Homo sapiens: one gene and its partners. The protein of the gene in region 3 interacts with the protein of the main gene of each other region in a biochemical or structural test. Each region holds a gene or a part of one and is shown on either strand. Other genes may lie near its edges.

What was found. The genes of interacting proteins can lie anywhere in the genome.
Region 1: the proteins of PPP5C (region 3) and ESR2 form a complex in vitro, tested with the Homo sapiens proteins (one study listed by BioGRID).
Region 2: the proteins of PPP5C (region 3) and CDK20 form a complex in vitro, tested with the Homo sapiens proteins (one study listed by BioGRID).

The regions. Positions count from the first base shown.
Region 1 is NC_000014.9:64,228,372-64,235,401, forward strand, and holds part of ESR2 (estrogen receptor beta), read right to left. Parts: intron 6,817-7,030; exon of another isoform or gene 6,780-6,816; coding exon 6,599-6,779; exon of another isoform or gene 6,491-6,598; intron 4,953-6,490; coding exon 4,766-4,952; 3' UTR 1-4,765.
Region 2 is NC_000009.12:87,965,941-87,971,563, forward strand, and holds the end of CDK20 (cyclin-dependent kinase 20), read right to left. Parts: intron 5,396-5,623; coding exon 5,207-5,395; intron 4,958-5,206; coding exon 4,836-4,957; intron 4,706-4,835; coding exon of another isoform or gene 4,691-4,705; coding exon 4,628-4,690; intron 3,980-4,627; coding exon 3,856-3,979; coding exon of another isoform or gene 3,835-3,855; exon of another isoform or gene 3,834-3,834; intron 3,410-3,833; coding exon 3,254-3,409; intron 2,928-3,253; exon of another isoform or gene 2,630-2,927; intron 2,234-2,629; coding exon of another isoform or gene 2,155-2,233; intron 1,733-2,154; exon of another isoform or gene 1,720-1,732; coding exon 1,522-1,719; 3' UTR 501-1,521; downstream 1-500. UniProt on the Homo sapiens protein: Required for high-level Shh responses in the developing neural tube.
Region 3 is NC_000019.10:46,371,062-46,378,091, reverse strand, and holds part of PPP5C (serine/threonine-protein phosphatase 5), read right to left. Parts: intron 2,489-7,030; coding exon 2,341-2,488; intron 1,640-2,340; coding exon 1,518-1,639; intron 606-1,517; exon of another isoform or gene 1-605. UniProt on the Homo sapiens protein: Serine/threonine-protein phosphatase that dephosphorylates a myriad of proteins involved in different signaling pathways including the kinases CSNK1E, ASK1/MAP3K5, PRKDC and RAF1, the nuclear receptors NR3C1, PPARG, ESR1 and ESR2, SMAD proteins and TAU/MAPT.

The sequences.
Region 1 (7,030 bases), on a different chromosome or scaffold from region 3:
ACAGTGCCATAGACATTAAAGGGACACAGTAAGGAAAACACTCCCTGGAGGAAGGGAAAGCAGGTCTCAAAATCTGCTTTCACAGAGCAGCAAACATTCATTTCTACAAGGCCCAAATGTAAAGCCTGCAAATGAAGTCAACAAATTAGTGTAATGATACAAAGCATTCGTCTGAGAAAATGGCAAATTATAGCCAACCAACAGGCTCTGAAGTACACATTGAATGACAAAAGGTATAGGACCAACAGTTAAGGCATTTAGACACCCAACAGAGGAAACAAATGCAAAAACATCCATTGTACAGTTAACAGGAACTGTTCGCGGCTGGTATCACCACTCCTTATGTGCTTCCCATAGAGGAAACCCACCACCAGTTTACCAGTGGCTGGCCCTACAAGTGAATAGGATCCTCGGAATTAAAAAACAAACAAACAAACAAACAAAAAACCTCCCTGACTCCAAAGCAACAAAAATGGCACTACGATCATACATCACAGACAATGCACATCTTAAGAGCTGCCACTGGAGCCAAAATTCCAGCAAGTTTGAGAGCTATAAAGAATAAGTGGCACGTGTTTTCACACTGTAGTATATCACACTCCACAGGGAAGCAGCAGTGCCTAAAAGATGTGAATTTTACATGAGTACACTTCCAAGGAACATATTCCACGTGTTTGGGGAAAGCAGTCACAGACAGGAGGTGATCACAGTACCCACTAGAGCTCATGAACCTGAGATGGGACAATGGGAATAACAGATTATGCATCTTATTTTTCCATCTGTCATTGCTGCTGTTGTGTAAAGGCTCATGCAGACCCATCTAAGCTGAGGAGATGGGATCTAAAGGTACAGCAGAAGACAACCCTAACTTCACCGCCCCTCCATTCTGCTGCGACTCAGCTCACAAAGCAGATTCTCACAGAAGCAAGTCCTGGGGCAGGAGCAATACTGGCCCGCTAGGCAAGCAGAAGACTTGCGTGCCAGTCCAAGCTTTGCCATGAGTAGTTTTATGACCTTGAATAGGTGAATTTGCCCCCGTGGGCTTTAATTTACACAGATATGAAAGGTGGAGTTGAACTTTGATGTGAGAGGTTTACAAACTTACTGTGTCTGTAGGGGTGTTCTGGACATTGTGGTGGGAGGTAAGGGGGTATCACAAGGGGGCCCCATTTAAATCACAGCAGCCGTGCATGTCAGGTTGCACCTGATAGATTCTGCAGTTTTAAAATATTTTTCTTTAAATTTTTAAACTGTTTGAAGTGCATGGTCACTGTCAGCACTGGACTTGGACTGCCTGTGTTCAGCTCAATCACCTACTCCCCACGTGACCTTCAGCAAGTTTGCTTAGACCGTGTCTAGTTCCACAACCAGAAAATAAGGAAATAGCAGTTATTATAATAAGGATTAAATGTGAATGTCTGAGGCACTGAGAACTGTGTCTGGCACAGATATTATCTTTAGATACTAAATAATGTGTTTTTATCTTTTTAAAAGATTTTCAGCAACTTAAAAAAAAATGTGGCGGGGCTGGGCACAGTGGCTCATGCCTGTAATCTCAGCACTTTGGGAGGCCTTGGCAGGCAGATCGCTGGAGCCCAGGAGTTCAGGACCAGCCTGGGGAGCATAGTAAAACCCCATCTCTACAAATATTAAAAGAATTAGCCAGGAGTGGTGGTGTGCACCCCAGCTACTCGGCGAGGGCGGGAATGGGGTGGGATGGGGCACTGTGGTGGGAGGATCGCTTGAGCCCAGGAGGTCGAGGCTGCAGTGAGCCATGATGGCGCCACTGCACTCTAGCCTGAGCAACAGGAGTCAGACCCTGTCTCAAAAAAAAAAAAAAAAAGGTGTCAAATCTTATTAAGTGAGGATACTTTGTTTCAAAATAGGCCTATAAACAGAAGGTTCACTTTGAATTTGAAAAGTCCCTTAGCAGACGTAAATAAGAACTAAACCCTGCTTTCACATGCTAGAAAATTCTAGAATTGCTTCAATTCCACTTATATACATAAATATATATGGATATATAATATGGCTCTGCCAAGTATTGGTAACTGATTTTTCTTCCTTACTGAAATCTAAGATAGTTGCCCTTCCAGCTGAGTTAGCAGGGGGAGTATTCCAGACCAAGACTCGCACTGTACAGCTCCTGCCGATTTTGCACTATTTTTAATGCAGTTGAGTCTTCAGATTTGTGACTAGGCTGACAGCTTTGTCTTGTGTTCCCGCCTTAATTTTTTGAGAAAAATCCCTTCAAGACTATTTTAGGGTCAAGTCTTTTGTAGTCAGTCCTGGTGGGCAGTCACTATGAGACAGGCCTGACAGAGGGGTGCTGTGAGAACAGAGCGAGATTCGGTGAGAATAGCTCAGCTGGAAACTCACTGTGCGGCGCTCCTGATACTGCCCACTCGAGGCTCTAAAGGGATTGCCATTGCCAGTTCACTCCCAGGAGTAGAAGTGATCTCTGTCTTAAGATCTACTCTCAAAAAAAAAAAATTATATATATATATATATATATATTTCGTGGCAATTTTTTTTTTTTTTTTTTTGAGACAGGGTCTCCCTCTGTCACCCAGGCTGGAGTGCAATGGACTGCAGCCTTGATCTCCCCAGGCTCAGGTGATCCTCCCACCTCAGCCTCCCAGGTAGCTGGAACTACAGGCCTGCACCACCACGCCTGGCTAATTTTTGTATCTTTTGTAGGACAGGGTTTCCATGTTGCCCAGCCTGGAGTCAAACTCATGGGCTCAAGTGGTTCGCCCACCTCGGCCTCCCAAAGTGCTGGGATTACAGGCGTGAGCCACCACATCTGGCCTTGTTTTGGTTTTTTATGTTTTTGTTACCTGGTAATCTCTTTTAAAAATACATTTAATAGAATTTCACTGGCAGATAATGAGTTGCTGAAGGCTGCCTTCTTTGCCTCTTACTTCCTACTCTCCAGCTTCCAAACCCCTCTATTGGGAGTGGGGGATTCTAGGCTGACCAGGAGGAAAGAAGCTGACACTAACACTGGTTCCCTGGTTCCTATGAAACCAAGCTTATCCTGCCTGTACTAAATCTTACTAAAGCTGTAACTGAGTCTCTAAGAATAACTTCAGACTGCCTCAGAACACAGACATCAGTGTGTTCTCTAGGTACTTGTCCAAGCATTTCTGAAACAGCTAAGCTCAACTTATAGTAAAATTGCACCAATATCAAAATTATGGATTATTCGAGGTCTTACTAGCAAAAACCAGTCTTGGTAACACTGAATGCAGTCTTCCTAATGACTTAGTAAATACAGGATGTGCTACCCAAAGTGAACATATTTTCAAAAAGAAAATATATTTAATATCATATCACAAGGTAATTGTTTAAAACGTTACTGCAATAATGAAACATGATTATTTAATTGCTGGCTTCCATAGTATGCTGTTACTCATTTTACATATTCACCGTGTATCCAAAACTGGAAATTTCACATCTTTTAAAAGGTGAGTTAAAGTTGTCATTTCAGAGGTGCCCTTCTTCATGTCCTATTTATGTTCCACTTGGAATAAGAACTAATATTTTTACTGTTTCTTTTTCACCCTGCCCACCATATAAATTTTCCAATAAGAAAATATTTTTAAAAGAGCTCTCAAGTGTAAAAGAATTCTTTCTTGCTATAAATAATTATCCCTAAATATTTCTCTTTAAGGAGAGTTCACAAACTGGGTCTTGTTCAAGGGGCGTACTCATCAAGGCTATACAGTGTGGCCCCAGAGCTGACACACTGGGGTGCATAGCTACTCATCCATCCATAAAACAGCACACTGCACACATCCACAGCCCAAAGTATCCCTGACTACTTGTGGTGACTGATGGGGCAATTGTGGCTGCTACTTATGAGGTTGTACAAGATGGAAACTGCATCCACATTGCCCCAGGGAAACACTGTGGCTGTCACCCACACCCACAGGAGAGAACCCCATTCCTGCAAACACGGCCTTTCTCCAGCACCCACGCTGGCCCCATGGGACAACAGGTTTAAGGAAGAGCAGCTCCAGAAGCAGCGAGATTTGTATCTCCCACAGTCCTGCATGAAAATGATCACACGCTCATACACACATACCCCAAATTATTGGCAGGCTCTGTGAATACAAATCGAGAGGGACAAATCTGTGTGCAGCTGGCAGCAAGGTCAGGGAGAGAACATGACTCACATCCCAGCTTAACCACAGTCCCTCTGGCCTTTGACAGAATAAGCATCATATGATATGATCAGTCCCCACAGGCCTGGGAGGTAAGTACGCAATTGCCACAGGGGTTTTCAATCTTACAATGGAGTGGTCCGGAAAACAGCAAAGGTCAACTCTCAGAGGGAAGGGTAGTGTGTGCCACACAAGAAGGGTTAGCCCACTTCTGTAAGCGTGTCACTTCCTCTCCCCTTTCTGATTCGCAGCCCTTCCAAGTCAGATTTCCACCATTCATTCCAAAACCTTTAAGATGTTTCACAAAGGGGAGGAAGGAAGAAGGAAAGTAAGAAAGACCACACTGAGATCCTATGAGGCCATTGAGTGTGGAAACGCTGCATTCAAATGTGCCCTCTGCTAACAAGGGAAACTATGGCTTCCTCACACCGACTCCTGAGAGTTGGGAAGGTGGAGGGAAGGATGGTACATGACCAAGCCTGCCATCACCAAATGAGGGACCACACAGCAGAAAGATGAAGCCCAGGCTCCTGACACACTGGAGTTCACGCTTCAGCCTGTGACCTCTGTGGGCCAGTTCACCTCAGGGCCAGGCGTCACTGAGACTGTGGGTTCTGGGAGCCCTCTTTGCTTTTACTGTCCTCTGCCGGGCTGCACTCGGACCCCGTGATGGAGGACTTGCACCCGCGAAGCACGTGGGCATTCAGCATCTCCAGCAGCAGGTCATACACTGGGACCACATTTTTGCACTTCATGTTGAGCAGATGTTCCATGCCCTTGTTACTATGGGGACAAAAAGGTGCTGAGATTCCCTCCTCCGAGGCAGCCACAGGAACCCCGAAGCCTTCCCCGGCTCTCTTTGCTCAGAGCCAGTCTACCCCACCCCTAAACCCACTCTTCCCCCAGCCCATTTATCCATGGCTCGTGCATCCAGCTCCCCCTGATAATTTAGGCTCAAGGGCAAGGACGATGTCTTGTCAGCCTCTGTGTCCCACCACACACCTACAATGGCCTGACACATAGGACAATCAATCCTCATTGTTTGCGGTAATTATGTTCCGTAAAGTCACTGTGAACACTGAATCCTCACTCATAGGGGAAATACAGGGTTAGGTTCCTGCAAGCCTCTGGCCACATCTTCATCAGCTGATCAATACAAAACCTTGTTTTATGTGTGTTTCTTTCTAAAGATGCCTTATGTGATAAATACCATTGACTCATTAACATTGAACTCATGGCCAGCAGCACTATAACTCACACCCGAGCAAAGCTTAACACATACTTTCTCCATAAGGCACATCACAGCTTTTTCACACCGAGGAACACTAGACAGGTCTTCAGCACCACACCAGGGGGGCATTTTAAACAGTGAAGTCACCAAAAGCACAAAAATGTAAAACCATGGCACTAAGTAGACCAAGTAAAGGACACTTGTTGACAGTATGAGAGCAGCTGCTTGTTCCATCTCAGCTGGGACTGTACATAAAGGGCAACTCAAAATTTCTGCCACTCTGTTCATGACCTCAAAAACACCACAAATATTGATTTTGGGGTTACAAATAAATTTTAGCAAGCAGATAAATTCACAATGAAGGAATCTACAAACACAGGATCTGTTCTGCAAATGGCTATGTGCTGAGCAATCATTAAAGGGGAAAGGCAGAGGTCTTCATCTCACTTAAGATTCTCGAGGTGTATATTGTCCTTCTCCACAGCCTCTAGACTTGCCTCCTCAGTGACCAGTTAATTACCTTCCACCCTCCCCTCCCCTCCTCCAGCTCCAGGGCAAGGCTACCCTCATCGTGGGTGACACCAAGCACTGAGCATCATTGTACCAACAGTAGCCACCACTGCACACCCTCTTCATCAGCACACACAATTACGTTTCCTGATCAGAAACATGCCCTACCTACAGCCCTGCCTTCCTAAATCTGCTGGGTCCACCACTTCTCTTAAGTCTTATCCTTAATTTCCTGATGCCACCGAAAGAACAACTCTTAGGGAAGCATTTGTGCACTTCTTCGCATCACCAGCTCGAGGGGCCATCTAGGGGAGCGGGTCTTAGCCTCTCCACAAAAAGTGGCCTCAGGGCCTCAGCCCTGGGTGGTGTAAACAGGGGTGGCAGTTCGTGTTAGGGGAGGAACTGCCCCTTTTAGGACTCCATAAACAGGCTATAAACCCCAGCAATTGAAAAACCCATGAGCCACCACTGGCTGCCATGCAGAGCCTGTAAGATACCACATGACATTCCTTCCATGCCCACTCTGTGCCCATCTTTGCTTACAGGTGTGTGAACTGACAAATTCCCCATTCCCTTTCAGGCATTCATTTTCCTTAACTTGCAGACACTTTTCCCAAATCACTTCACCCTCCGTGGAGCACATAATCCCATCCCAAGCCCAAGCAGAGCAGCTCCTTAGGGCGCGTACCTCGCATGCCTGACGTGGGACAGGAGCATCAGGAGGTTAGCCAGGCGCATGGATTGCTGCTGGGAGGAGATGCCGCTCTTGGCAATCACCCAAACCAAAGCATCGGTCACGGCGTTCAGCAAGTGAGCCAGCTTCCGGCTGCTGTCAGCATCCTGGGTCGCTGTGACCAGAGGGTACATACCTGGACAAAGAATAAAAGCCAGAAGTCATTGCTCTGAGCAAAGGAGCAGAAGTCGTGTGCTCAGCTGTTCCGTGCGCCTGCTCCGAGGTGATCTGGGTTGCTTTGACAGCTGCATGTGTGGCAGGAGCTTATAAGCATGGTCTTACCTCCCCCAGGGGATCTTCCCTGAGAGCCAGCCCCGTCACAGAGCTAGAAGAGAAGCCTGGCCTAATGCAGACAGACTAAATTGCCACCTGAAGTGTCCACCAGGC
Region 2 (5,623 bases), on a different chromosome or scaffold from region 3:
ACATCAGACTTTCCTGAAAGCCAAGAACGAGGGTTGAGTATGTTTTCTCTCTCCACTAAGTGCTTGAAGGCCAGCATCTGTAGCAGTGTTAGTCACCCTGAGTGCTCACAGAAGAGTTTATCCACATGAAGCATAAAATAAACATTTTAAAAATAAAGGGAGCCTGGGGCTGGGCATGGTGGCTCACGCCTACAATCCCAGCACTTTGAGAGGCCCGGGCAGGCAGATCACGAGGTCAGGAGATCAAGACCATCCTGGCTAACATGGTGAAACCCTGTCTTGAGTAAAAATACAAAAATTAGCCAGGTGTGGTGGCACGCGCCTGTAGTCCCAGCTACTCGGGAAGCTGAGGCAGGAGAATCACTTGAACCCAGGAGGCGGAGGTTGCAGTAAGCCGAGATTGTGCCACTGCACTCCAGCCTGGGCAACAGAGCAAGACTCCATCAAAAAATAAATAAAATAAAAATAAAGGATGGCTAAGAATAAGTTTCTCTAGTCTGTTTTTATCCTTGAACCACAATCATACTCTTTATTATTATACAAACTTTTAAATATTGGTATCTGATACCGTAAGTCCTTCCATCATTTCCTCTTCTGCATCTGGTTCCACTTCCTTCCATGTATCTTTTATAATCACCTTATCAAATTATAATAAGGAAAAAGCACTAGCTGGGATTATATTGGGATTTATTAAATTTATAAATTAATTCCAGGAACGCTTGTTTCCTTAAATACACAGCTGCTTCTGGCTCACGCTCATCCTGAGGGAGTAGATGTTGGTAAACCAGCCTCATGTGCAGAGGGTCTCCTGCTGGATCCCCAACTGGAGCCATCCCTGGGCCTAGACTTCTGTCTCCCTCACTTCTAAATGAGTGCTCAGTGATGTGAAGTACACAGGAGTCCCTCAGGGCAAAAGTGGCTATGCCTGGTGCTACCCTCCCCATGACCCCAAAAACGAGAGCCATGAGACAATGCCACCTTAGCCATTTCCCTTGAGAGAAATGAAGGAGGAACAGACATAAGGCAGAGCCACCTGAGGTTTTTAGAATCTATATCTCACATACTGAACTAGTGTTTAATGGCTCTGAGAATAAAACCAAACCAAATCTTCCTTCCACTTGAGTTTCCAACATAAGGACACCTTACTCTCTGCACTTCTCCTTGACCAGGAGGCAGCACTCGGGGAAGCAGCACCAAGGCAGGCATCGTCATTCTGCATATGCAGGCCTTGACTGGCAGCAGAGCTCACTGTCCTGATGGGTACGTCAGTAGCACACAGAAGGTAAGGCTCACCGAGCACAGGCCATGAATCTCCTCTGCTCGACTGGATGTTCTCATACTCTTGGCTGGGAACATGACCTCTGCCTCGAGACCAACCCTCGCAAGGGCTAAGGGGCAGGGTGTGGTGTGGGCCCACTGTGGCCATGGGGAGGCCTTGGAGGGTGAAGCCAGGCAGGTGGCAGAGGAACAGGTGGACTGAGTGGTCCTGAGGAGCAGGCAGACGGGACCAGGGCCAACTTCTCACCCCTCCAGGATGAAGGGCCGAATCAGCTCTGGGTTCAACAGCGACTCCTCAAGAGGCCGGTCCACGTGGAAGTCATGGATGTGGGGGGGCCCTGGATGGGCCTTGGGGGCAGGTCCCCCTAGACGCTGAGGAATCGGCAGCTCAGATGGATGGGCAGGCAGGGGAGCTGTGAAGAAGTACTGATGGAGGAGAGCCTGAGGGTGGCAAGTAAGGAACAGCAGAAGGAAACTAGTCACCTCCCTGTCCCCAGCCTCAAGCAGATGTTCCTTCATCTATGCATTCAGCTGACTCAGTGTGTCTGGGTGTTTTCTGAGTGTCTACTATGTCTGAAGCACTATTCCAGAAGCTGGGAACATAGCCGTTAATAAAACAGACAAAAGCTCTGTTTTTCTGACATAAGTGAGGGTGGGGGGTAATAAACAAGATGAAGTAAAATACACAGTATGTCAGATAATGATTAGTGCAGTGGAAGAGAGAAAGCAAGACAGAGGAATGAGGAATCCTGGAGAGAGGTTGCAGATCTGAAGAGTCATGAGGGAAGGCCATCTGAGAAGTGACATTTAAGCCAAGACTTGAGACATAAGCAAGTGGGACATGAGGCTCCAGGCCAGGGACAAAAGTGTACTGACCCCTGGGGCTGGAGAGGAGTGAGCACAGGGCACAACAGCAGGCAGCGTCATGAGGTGATGGCACCCAAGCATACGACATCTGTGGGTCACAAAAAGGACCCTGGCTTTTCCTCTGAGATGGAGCCACAGGAGGGCCCTGGCAGAGAAGGAATGTGTCCTGTTCTACTTGGATAAAGTTACTCTGTCTGCCAGGTGGAGAAGAGATTAAATGGGATGAGGGGAGACCCAGATTCTGGGAGGCAACCCAAGAGATAAGGGTCACACGGCTTGGGTACACTGTGGACACAGAGCCCACAGGAGCTGCTGACAGTGGAGACCAAGAGGGCGTATGTAAACACACGCGGCTGGTGCTGAGTGCAGGGAGGGGACAGGGACCCCTGAGAGACACCCTGACACCTGTCAGCCCATGCTCCTGTGGTCATCGTCCTCCCAGGCCTACCAGCCATAACCAGCCTTCCTGGGTCCTCTCTTCCAGGCCTCTGCCCACCATTTCTCTCTTCAGCGAACACCTCCTCAAACATCTCATGCTTAAACCTGCCCTCCACCAGGAAGCTTTGCTTGACCCCAAAGTCGGCCTTGCCTCTCTCCTGGGGCTCCCACAGCTGGAGAACATGACCTCTTGTGACCTTTTGGACCTGGAGCTACCTCACCACCAGGAGTGCCCCGCGGAGGTAGGACTGATTGTTTACCATCTGTGCAGGGCCCAGGACAATCCCTGCATGTGCCAGATGTGCAGAAAATACTTGCTAATGGAATAAAGGAATGAGTCCCCAGTGACTCTCTTACTGTATCTGCCACAGGGTCAGGGGCAGCCCAGAAACCTGCACTCCCGGACACGCGCTCTCCTGAGAGTTGGGCATGCCCCTCGTATGGGCCACCCTCAGGGGAAGTCTGGGGATGTCCAGTGGGGTCTACTCATGAGAGGCACACCTGCTCCAAGGCCCCTGTCCCCTGGGTTCCAGATGTCTGGTGCTGGTCCATGCCAATCACAGGTTCTGAGGGTCGCTGATGTGATGGGGTCACATGGCTACCAAGTACAGAGTACCAGGGTGATGGGGAGGGGAGCTGAAGGAGCAGAGACTACAGCCTCTCCCCCTACCTTGGAAGCTGCGATGCGCTGGTGAGGAGGGTAGAGAAGGAATTGACCCAGCAGATCCAATGCCTGGGGAGAGACGTCAGGCAGCACCTCCTCCAGGGGCATGGGCACCTGCTCCTTAAAGGAGATCTTGTTGTAGTCCGGCAGCTCAGTGAGCTCCTGGGCCAGGGAGAAGGAACAGGGTACAATGAGAGTAGTTCCCGACCCTTGCCATGCTCTCTGCTGTCAACTCTCAGCCCCTAACACACACTCACATGGGGGGTGCTCTCCCATCCATGTGTCTCCCTGACCCATCATTCATTCACTCACCCACCCCTGTATTCCTTCATCCATCCCCTTGCCCTCTCAGATGACGACTCTGTGCACAGCTTGCTGAGACACTGCACATGTGTGTACTGGGGTGAAAAGGGACAAAGGACAGGATCTACCCCAACCCAAATGACAGCAGGAAGGAGGAAGCCCTGAGTTGGGCCAGGACAGTGGTCCCTGTCCATCAAGGGGGGTTGGGGCCAGGAGAGAGAAGGTTCAGGGGAGGGAGTGGTTACTTGCTGTTGGGAGTGGAGTAAACCTGCCCCACACCCACCTCACCAAGGGCCCCTACAAACCGGCCAGACTTGAGGGTTTGGGGTGCCCAAGATGCGAAGCACATAGCAAAGCTGTTCAATATCGTTCTTGCCCGGGAAAAGGGGGGACCCATTCAACAGCTCCCCCATGATGCAGCCCACAGACCTGTGGACACAGAGCCCCAAGCAGGTCAGAGATCTCCCACCATGGACCACAGACCCACCCACAGAGCAGCTCTAACACTGCACTCCAGGGCAAGGCCCCACAAGCCAGCCCTGGAGCCTCACGTCCAGAGGCCCAGTCCCTGAACCCTCAAAGCCCTCAACCCTAGAACCCAGAGCAAAGCCCCAGCTGTTCCAAGACTTCTCGGAGACTCCTGCTCTAGGACACTTCTGGGGCAGACCTGCAAACCTGCCCCAAATCTCAGACCCATGGGCACTGCCAACTATCTTCTTGCTGCAAAACAAGCTCAGAGCTTTCATGTCCAAGGACACAGGCCTCTGACCAGCTCAGAGATGCCATATCCTAGGATCTAACTCCAGCACATATCGGCTCAGACCACCTCCCCATCTAGCCCAGAAAGCTTCCCACCTGGGACCACCATTCTCATCCCACCTGGCCCCTACCCAGCTCGAAAACATCATAGTGAGGAACCCCAACCCCAAAGTGCTCAGAATACCCCAACCAGGGAAGACACCCTTAAGGAAGCCTAAACTCCCACCAGGGAAAAGACCACCAAACAGCTCAGAGACCTCAGAGCCTAGCAGAAATCCATGAGCCATGTTACCCTTTGACCACCCACAGGGGTCTCACCACAGATCGACGCCCTGGTCATACTGGCGGGCACCATACAGGAGCTCGGGGGCTCGGTACCACCTGCGAGGAAGAGGGCTGGCAGGCACTGGGCTGAGAAAAGGATGCCTGGGGAGGTGACCCCAGCCCCACAAGCAATGTCTGGAGAAAAGGCCCAGAAGCATCTCTTCCCCATGGAGAAGACTGGAAGGGATCTGGCCCTCCCTACCTGGTGGCCACCTGGTGTGTGTAGAGGCGGCTGCCGTCTGGGGAAAAGACTCGAGCCAGGCCAAAGTCCGCTATCTTGAGCTGGCCTGAGGCGCTGATGAGCAGGTTGGCAGGTTTCAGGTCCTGGGAGTACCAAAAGAAGCATCAGTCCCTCCAAATCCCCCATAGGACCTTGGGACAAGCGGGCTTGGCAGTCTAACCACTCAGGTCAGCCCCGGTCCCCACCTCCTCCAGGGCCATGCCCTGGCCACTTACCTGGAGGCCTTGACCAGCTCTGTCCCAACTTCTTATCACACCTTTTACAAGGGCTAGCCCCATCCCCAAGCCAAGTCAGCTCCCCAGACCCCATGCCCGGCCTATGCTGAGACTGACCCGATGTACAATGTTGTTGGCATGGCAGAAGGCGACACCCTTGAGCAGCATCTGCAGGTAGCTCTTGACCTGTGCCTGGGCTAGTGGCCTCTGGGCATGGCGCACCACCTCGGCCAGATCCGACAGCATGAACTCAAAGGCCAGCACAAAGCCTCCACCGTGTGGGAACACAGCCTTCAGTTGTACCACCTGTGGGCAGGACATCTTGTTAGCCCCCAGACTCAAGTCACCAGACCCTCTCTGTGACCCTGAGACCCCAGCCCATGCCCTGACAGAGGACCCTGTATCCAAAAAGACAGTAAGCAAAGAAGGTGACGTGGACCTGAGCTAAGAATCAGAGAGCTCGATGCTCATGATTTGCTCTGCTCTCCTGAGATAAGGTGTGCCCCCACTCTAATTCTCCATGAACACTAAAAG
Region 3 (7,030 bases):
TGTCCATCTTCAGAAGCCAGAAGAAAGCAAATTAAACCTCAAGCATGCATAGAGAATAATGAATGAAAAATCAATGAAACAAAAGACAATCAATAGAGAAATTCAACATGAACAATGAAAACATGTTCACAAAAAGACTTGTCCAAGAAGTTCATAGCAGCTTATACTTATAAAAGCTACAAAGTAGAAATAACCCAAATGTCTCTCAAAAGAAGACTGCATAAACAAGTCATGGGCTGTTCAGACAATGGAGGACTTGAGCTACCGATATACACAACATCCATGTATGAATCCCACACACATTGTGCCACATGAAAGAAGAGACACTAAACGCTGTAAGCCCATATGACATTGAAATGAAATTCAAAACCAGGCAGAATTAATTTACAGTGGTGAAAAATCAGATCAGTGGTTGCCCCTGGGATGGGAGTGAGGGCTGACTAGAAAGGGGTCAAAGGGAGCTTTCTGGTTGATGGAAATGTTCTGTAACTTGTTTGGGCAGTGGGCACATAAAACTCTAAAAACTCATCTAACAGGACACTTCAGATTTGTGTATTTTATTGTGCATTAATTATACTTCAATTAAAAACAACCAGGAATGTGGACATTCCTCCTCCTGTCTCACCTTTAACAACATGATCAACAGCTAACCCATACAGAGCACTAACCATGTGCTAGGCACTATTCGAAGCACTGATGTGGATTACACGCAGTTACTCCTTACAACAGCCCTTGGTGGAGACAGTATGATTATCTCCACTGCACAGAGGAGGAAATCAAGGCACAGAGAGGTGAAGCCATCTGCCCACAGGCACACAGCTAGTATGTGGGAAGGTAGAGATTTGAACCCAGGCCACTTGGCTCTCTAGGACCTATCAAATGGCGGCTTCCCATATTGCCTGCACACTCCTGTAAGAGTCACCTGCCTGTCAACCTGACTCACAAGAAGTCCCGCATCCTCATAACCAACCCAGGAGGTGGTGGATCTCAGCAGTTCCCCAAAACTATGGTAAGGTCCCTGTAGCCCTGAGAGGTCAGGGCAGGGGGCCTTGTCCAGATGGGATACCAGAGCCTGAGTCTCACTCAACCAGTTAACACCCTGTGGCCAGCTGCCCTCCTAGGTCGGGGAGGGGGTGGTCTCAGGACTAGGAGCAACCAGCAGGTCCCAAACAACCTGCAACAACCAGCAGCCACAGACGCCCAAGAGCCTGGGATGAGAACTCAAAGCAACAGACTCTACTGCTTCCTCACCTTTCACCCTGGGCCAGTCACCTGACCTCTCTGGCCCTTTGTCCCTGCATCTGTCAAATGGCACTGCCTGCCACCTCCCCAAACTGCTGTGGGACGAGATGAGATCATGTGGTAAGCCCTCGGCACAGTGTCCGGCACACGACTCCTGTTTGGTGTTGGCTGTCATGGCCGCCCTTCTCCTGTCGTTTTGCTCAGTGCCCGCGGCTGGCAGTGCTGTGATGCCATCCCAGGGTTCCCGGGTGCCCAGTACCTGACAGATGCATTACCTGGTAGGCACATTTCCGGTGCAGTTTCTTCTGGTCCTTGTACCACTGCATGAGCTCCTTCATGAAACTGATTGTCACTTTGCCGTCTTCAAGCTTGGGTCCGCTGTACTCATCCTCAATGGCTAGGGTGTGAACAACGGGACACGAGAGTCAGTGACCACAGCCACTATGAGGGAGAAGGGGGTCTCGCTCCCAGGGATGGGGAAAACTTGGGTGTGGACACACAGGTCGAGAGCGGGACAGAGTGAGTGAAGAGTCCCCTCCTGGGTCAGGTCTGGCCCAGAGGCCTCTTCCTGACCTCCCTGTCTTCCTTCACCCACCCCCCTTTACTCTATTCAGTTTTATGGCACTTAGCACTATTCATTTCATGACTTATTCATCATCTTATCTCCCTCCTAGAATATCGGCTCCATGTGGACAGGAAGGGTTTTGTTCATAGCTGTACCCCTAGTGCCTAGGACAGTGCCGGGCACATAGGAGATGCTCAATAATCATCTGTGGGATGATCCACAACAATCCCTTGGATCTTCTCAGCACCTAGAGGTGAATCAGACACAGCCTGTGGGGACTGTGCTACTACCCGGAGGAAGGGCCCGTGAAATGGCAGGGGGACCATGGCTCTCCAATCTCGCTCACTGGGAAGCGTGAGGCCCAGCTTTGGGCTGTGGATGGAGCGCCCTGGAACACAGGCAGAGGAGCGACAGACACCAGCCTGGGGACAGAACAAGGGGCCACCCCTGAGCCCAACCCCACCCCCAGGGAATGGAGAAGGCCCGTGTGGAATGTTCTGGGCTGGAGCGTGGAGCATCCAGGCCTGACTCACTCATGCTCTCGATGTCCAGCGAGTCCACCACGGAGCGCTTGTGCTCGTCGCCCGCGATGGCCCGCTCAAAGGCCTTCTGCTTCACGATCTTGTTGCACTCCTGGTATTTCATTTTGGCATCCTTGTCATGGGGCTTCACCTTGACCACCTGGGTGGGAGGGAAGGGGCGTGCACACTGAGGCTGAGGTGGGGGCACAGCGGTTGCCCCCAGGCTGCCCAGCCCTGGGTTCCATGAAAGTGGAAGTCAGACCGCCTGGGCGCCAGGTGCTGATGGTGCAACCCTAGACGTATTTAACTGCCGAGCCTTGGTTTCTGCACCCCAAAACTGGGCACAGCAAAGCTGCCCGCATGGGTGCACTTCATCAATCTTAGCTATGAGCGCGCTAAAATCAAACAACTGCCTGTCTGAGGACTGCGGGCTCAGCTTCAGGTGCCCTGTGAGAATCCCTGTGGGGTGAGCAGCATCCCAAGCACAGGTCCTGATGCTACTATCGTGACTACCAAGGTGGCGGAGCATGAGAGGAAGGGCCCGGCTGGGTCTACGGTCACAGAACAGCCCAGACTCACACAAAGGGCCAATGACTTGCTGGACGACATGGACTCCCCAAGCCCAGGTTACCTAATCTCTAACAGGGAGGTGACACAGGGCTCCCCTGCCAGGGCTGTGGGAAGGAATAAGTAACACAGGGGGCCCGGCATGCAGCAGGGGCAGGTGGGCAGCAGCACCGAGTGCTGTTACTTCCCTCCCTCACACTCTGGGGAGGCCCAGGACAAAAGATTTCCCTGTTTTGTCCACTGAAGAGAGGAACTGAGGGTCACAGATCCCTGAGACCGGGTTCAAATCCCAGCTCTGCAAGTCATGAGCTGGGTGACCTCAGGCAGGTGAGTCTGCCTCTCTGTGGCTCAGTTTCTCTCTGAGGTGGGACTGAGAACCATATATATCTCCCTCAAGAGGGCCACTGGGAGAGCTGCATGGGTGAATGCTTGTGAACCCTGCACAGTGGTGCCAGGTGAAAGGAAACTCCACGTGGGCGCCCACTGCTCTTCACGGTCCCCCTTCTGGGGCTGCTGCGCTGATGACCAGATCATACACAATAGGCATGGGGCGTTCAGCTTTGGGACATAGCAAGTTCCCAGTGAAAGGAGCCCTATCCCCGCAACCTTATTTACCCCGATTCCTGCAAACTCTGATCTTCTAACCTGAAAAGCAGACTGGATTTGGGGGCTGGATTCAGATCCTGGCTCTGCTACTTACTTGCCATGTGACTTTGGGCAAGTGACTTCACCTGTTTAGTCACGTAGACCCCCGTCTGACCTGCCCACCATCCTTAGCCTCCCCAGGAGCAGACCCCCGTATCTCCTGTGCCAGAGGACAGACTGGGAGGTCCCAGGGCCGGCCCTCAAGGAGCAGGGGTGGCCTCTGGTGGAAAGCCTGGCAGCGTGACTCAGAAACCTCCACAGAGACACCCACTGACCCCTGCAGGTTGGTGTGACAGAAGCAGGGGGTGAGGCTCATCCATGCTGGAAACAGGTGTGTGCGCCAAGCGGGGTGAGAAGAGCCCAGGCCCAGCAGGCCACGGCCTCCTCCCTGTCTGGGCAGGCCTAGGGCACCCTGCCAGGCAGCTCCACCTGGGCTGTGGGTGGGTGTAAGGCAGGGGAGGAAGACAGTGCCAGGCAGCCCCTGGCATCCTTCCCAATGAGGAGTGGTTATGTGCCCACACCCGGCTGGCATCCAAACCAGCATGTGGCCTGGCCCATGCGGCTCCTCCCACCCCTCTATACCTCCCAGCCAGACCACTCATGTCCCCGGCATGCTGGCTCCAGGCCTTTATGCAGGCTGCCTCTGCCCAGAGCACCTCATTTGCACCTCCAGCTCCTCCTCCAGGTCTCAGCCCCACTGATCCCTCCTCTAGGAAGCCCCAGAGGCTGGGTCAGGCACCCCCTCTGGGCTCCCAAAGGCCCCTGGGCTCCCTTGTTCCAGCCGTGAGCCCTGCTGGTTCGGAACCGGTCTGTCCACCCCGCTGGAAGGTGGCCCTGTGAGGGCAGGGCTGAGGCTCAGCCATAGCTGTGCGTGCAGCAGTCAATGAATTTCCCTTCCCCCCTTTCTCCAAAGAAATGAATGAGTGACTGAGCATTTCCTCCCCGCCAGTCTCCTGTTCTCCAGGGGTGGGCGGGCTGGGAAGGCAGATGAAGGCAAACAATGACAGCGCAGGGAGGAGAAAGGGAGTGGGAATACCAACAGTGGCAGCGGCAACAATAATAATACACAGCTCACTTCTAGAGCACTTACTATGTGCCTAATATTGTGTAAGCAATTCACTTGCTCATTTATCCTCCATGCACCTCTACATGGCAGTGTTTTCACAATCCTCATCTGACAGACAAGAAAACCAAGGCCCGGGGAGGTGAAGTCACCCACCCAGGAAGCCAGGATTCCCTTCTCTCCCAGGCGAAACTGCGCCAAAGCCCAGGCTCCTGATTTCCGCTATGCACGCTGGGATGGGCTCCCCTTCCACCACCTCCCCTCCCTGCCTGGGCCTCTCGTCCCTGGGGCACACTGCATGCCCTCCAGGGAGGCAGCGTGGGGCAGTGGTTATGAGCCTGGGCTCTGGGACTAGGCCTCCTGGGTCTGAATCCAGGCCTGCCAGGACAGGCGGCCTCACATCTCAAGCCTCCCTCAGTTTCTAGAAAGTAGGGGTGGTGCCAGCACCCCCTGGAGGATTGTCGTGAGAACTTAATGCCAGGCAGCAGCAGGCAAGTGCTCATCCCAAGGCCTGCTGCTACTGTAGCTGCTGCGACACGCAAGGTCTAGCTGGGACAGTGAAGATGCCCTGCTGGGCTCCTGCTCCTGAGGAAGGTCATTCAGTCCAGACCAGAAGGGACTCAGCTCCTGAAGGCCCACCGGGTCAGAACTTCACACTGAACTTTTTTTTTAAAGTGGCAGTTGGATTGTATCAAGGTCAGTATTCTGACTGTGATATTTATGTAGTTATGCCAGATATACCTTTAGGGAAAACTGGGATTTCTGCATTACTTCTTACAACTGCAGGTGAATCCACAGTGCTAAGTAAACAAGTTGTTTCTAAAAGCATTATCTTCGTCAGCGAGTACTCATGGGTAATGATGTCTGGAGCTGGTGAAATGGTAACACAGGTTCACAATCCCCGAAGAAGCCCTGGGGGCTGCGTGTATTTGGGGATTGGGAATTTTTTGGATTTTAGTAAGGTGATTTGGTAGATGGCCGGGTGTGGTGGCTCACACCTATAATCCCACCACTGTGGGAGGCTGAGGTGGGAGGATCACTTGAGCTCAGGAGTTCAAGACCAGCCTGGACAACATAGTGAGTCCCTATCTCTAGAAAAAAATAACAACAACAACAAAAAGCTAGCCAGGTATGGTGGTGCATGCCTGTAGTCCCAGCTACTTTGGGGGGCTGAGGTGGGAGGATTGCTTGAGCCCAGGTAAGGCTGCAGTGAGTCATGATTGTGCCATCACACTCCAGCCTGGGTAACACAGTGAGATTCTGTCTCAAAAAAAAACCAAAACAAAACAATACAAAAAAACCCACATGATTTTGTGTACATGCTCTATCATAGGACACCCCCAGCAGGTCCAAGGCAGTACCTAGTAATCACAAGCACATACACGGCCATTTCTGCAGCAAAACCTCCAGACATGCCACTGGAGAGTAATCAAGACCATCAGCAGCTTCTTAGTAGTTCAGGTCAGGTTTTGCCACTGAACGAGCTGCCCAAACTTACCAGAACAACTGTTCTTCAGAACTGCTTGGGTTTTAAAACTAAGGGTGAGGGATTATAGAGCAGCATCAAGATCCCACATGGAGTGGACCCACAGTACAAGGTGTAACAGGGCATTCTGAATATCTCCAACATGCAGACAATGAGCAGCAGCCCAGAAGGGAGCCGTGCCTGCCTGAGGCATGCAGGCAGCTGGGGGAAGTCAGGTTTCCAGGGCAGGAAATGCCGCTGCTAGTGACAGCCTGAAGCCTGACATAAGGGTTTTTACCCTAGTGGGTTAGTTTCTGGTGAATGAGTTTGGCAAGTCATACCCAGCATTCTCTGTATAATAAGTCAGAGAGACCACCAAGGTGCACTGCCTGAGCTAAGGGTGAGTGCTGTGCCGAGAAACTCGGACCCGCTGCGCCTGCCCTGCTTATGGCCTGACTCTGGGACAAAGCTGCCACCTCCTGGCTGTGCAACCTCAGTGGAGTGAGCTACCCTCTGGGCCTTGGTTTCCTCACCTATAAACCAGGGACAAAGAGAGTCTCCACTGCGCAGGGTAGCCGTGAAGATGAAATGAGTTATATTACTGCATGAAGGTCACACCCTGGGCCCTGGCGAGCGCTGGATGAAATAGTGGTTGTGACTATTCCTGTTACTTTCACAGATCCATGCTGTAGGTGTACAGGCACTAGTATCCGCTTGCAAGGCAACACGCATTTCTAACTGACTGTGCTGGACTCTGATGTAAGGAACCCAAAGCCACAGAACAAAAATCAGGAGATCCCAGGAAGGGCCAGGGAGCACAGAGGGAGTCCCCCAGATCCGGCCTAGGTTTGCACCCAAGTTCCAAGCATAGACAGGAAAGAACATAGGTGGTGTCTTCCGGAAAAGGACCCCGTGAGGGACATCCATCATGAGAGTCAGGGTTCTCCAGAGAGACAGAACTA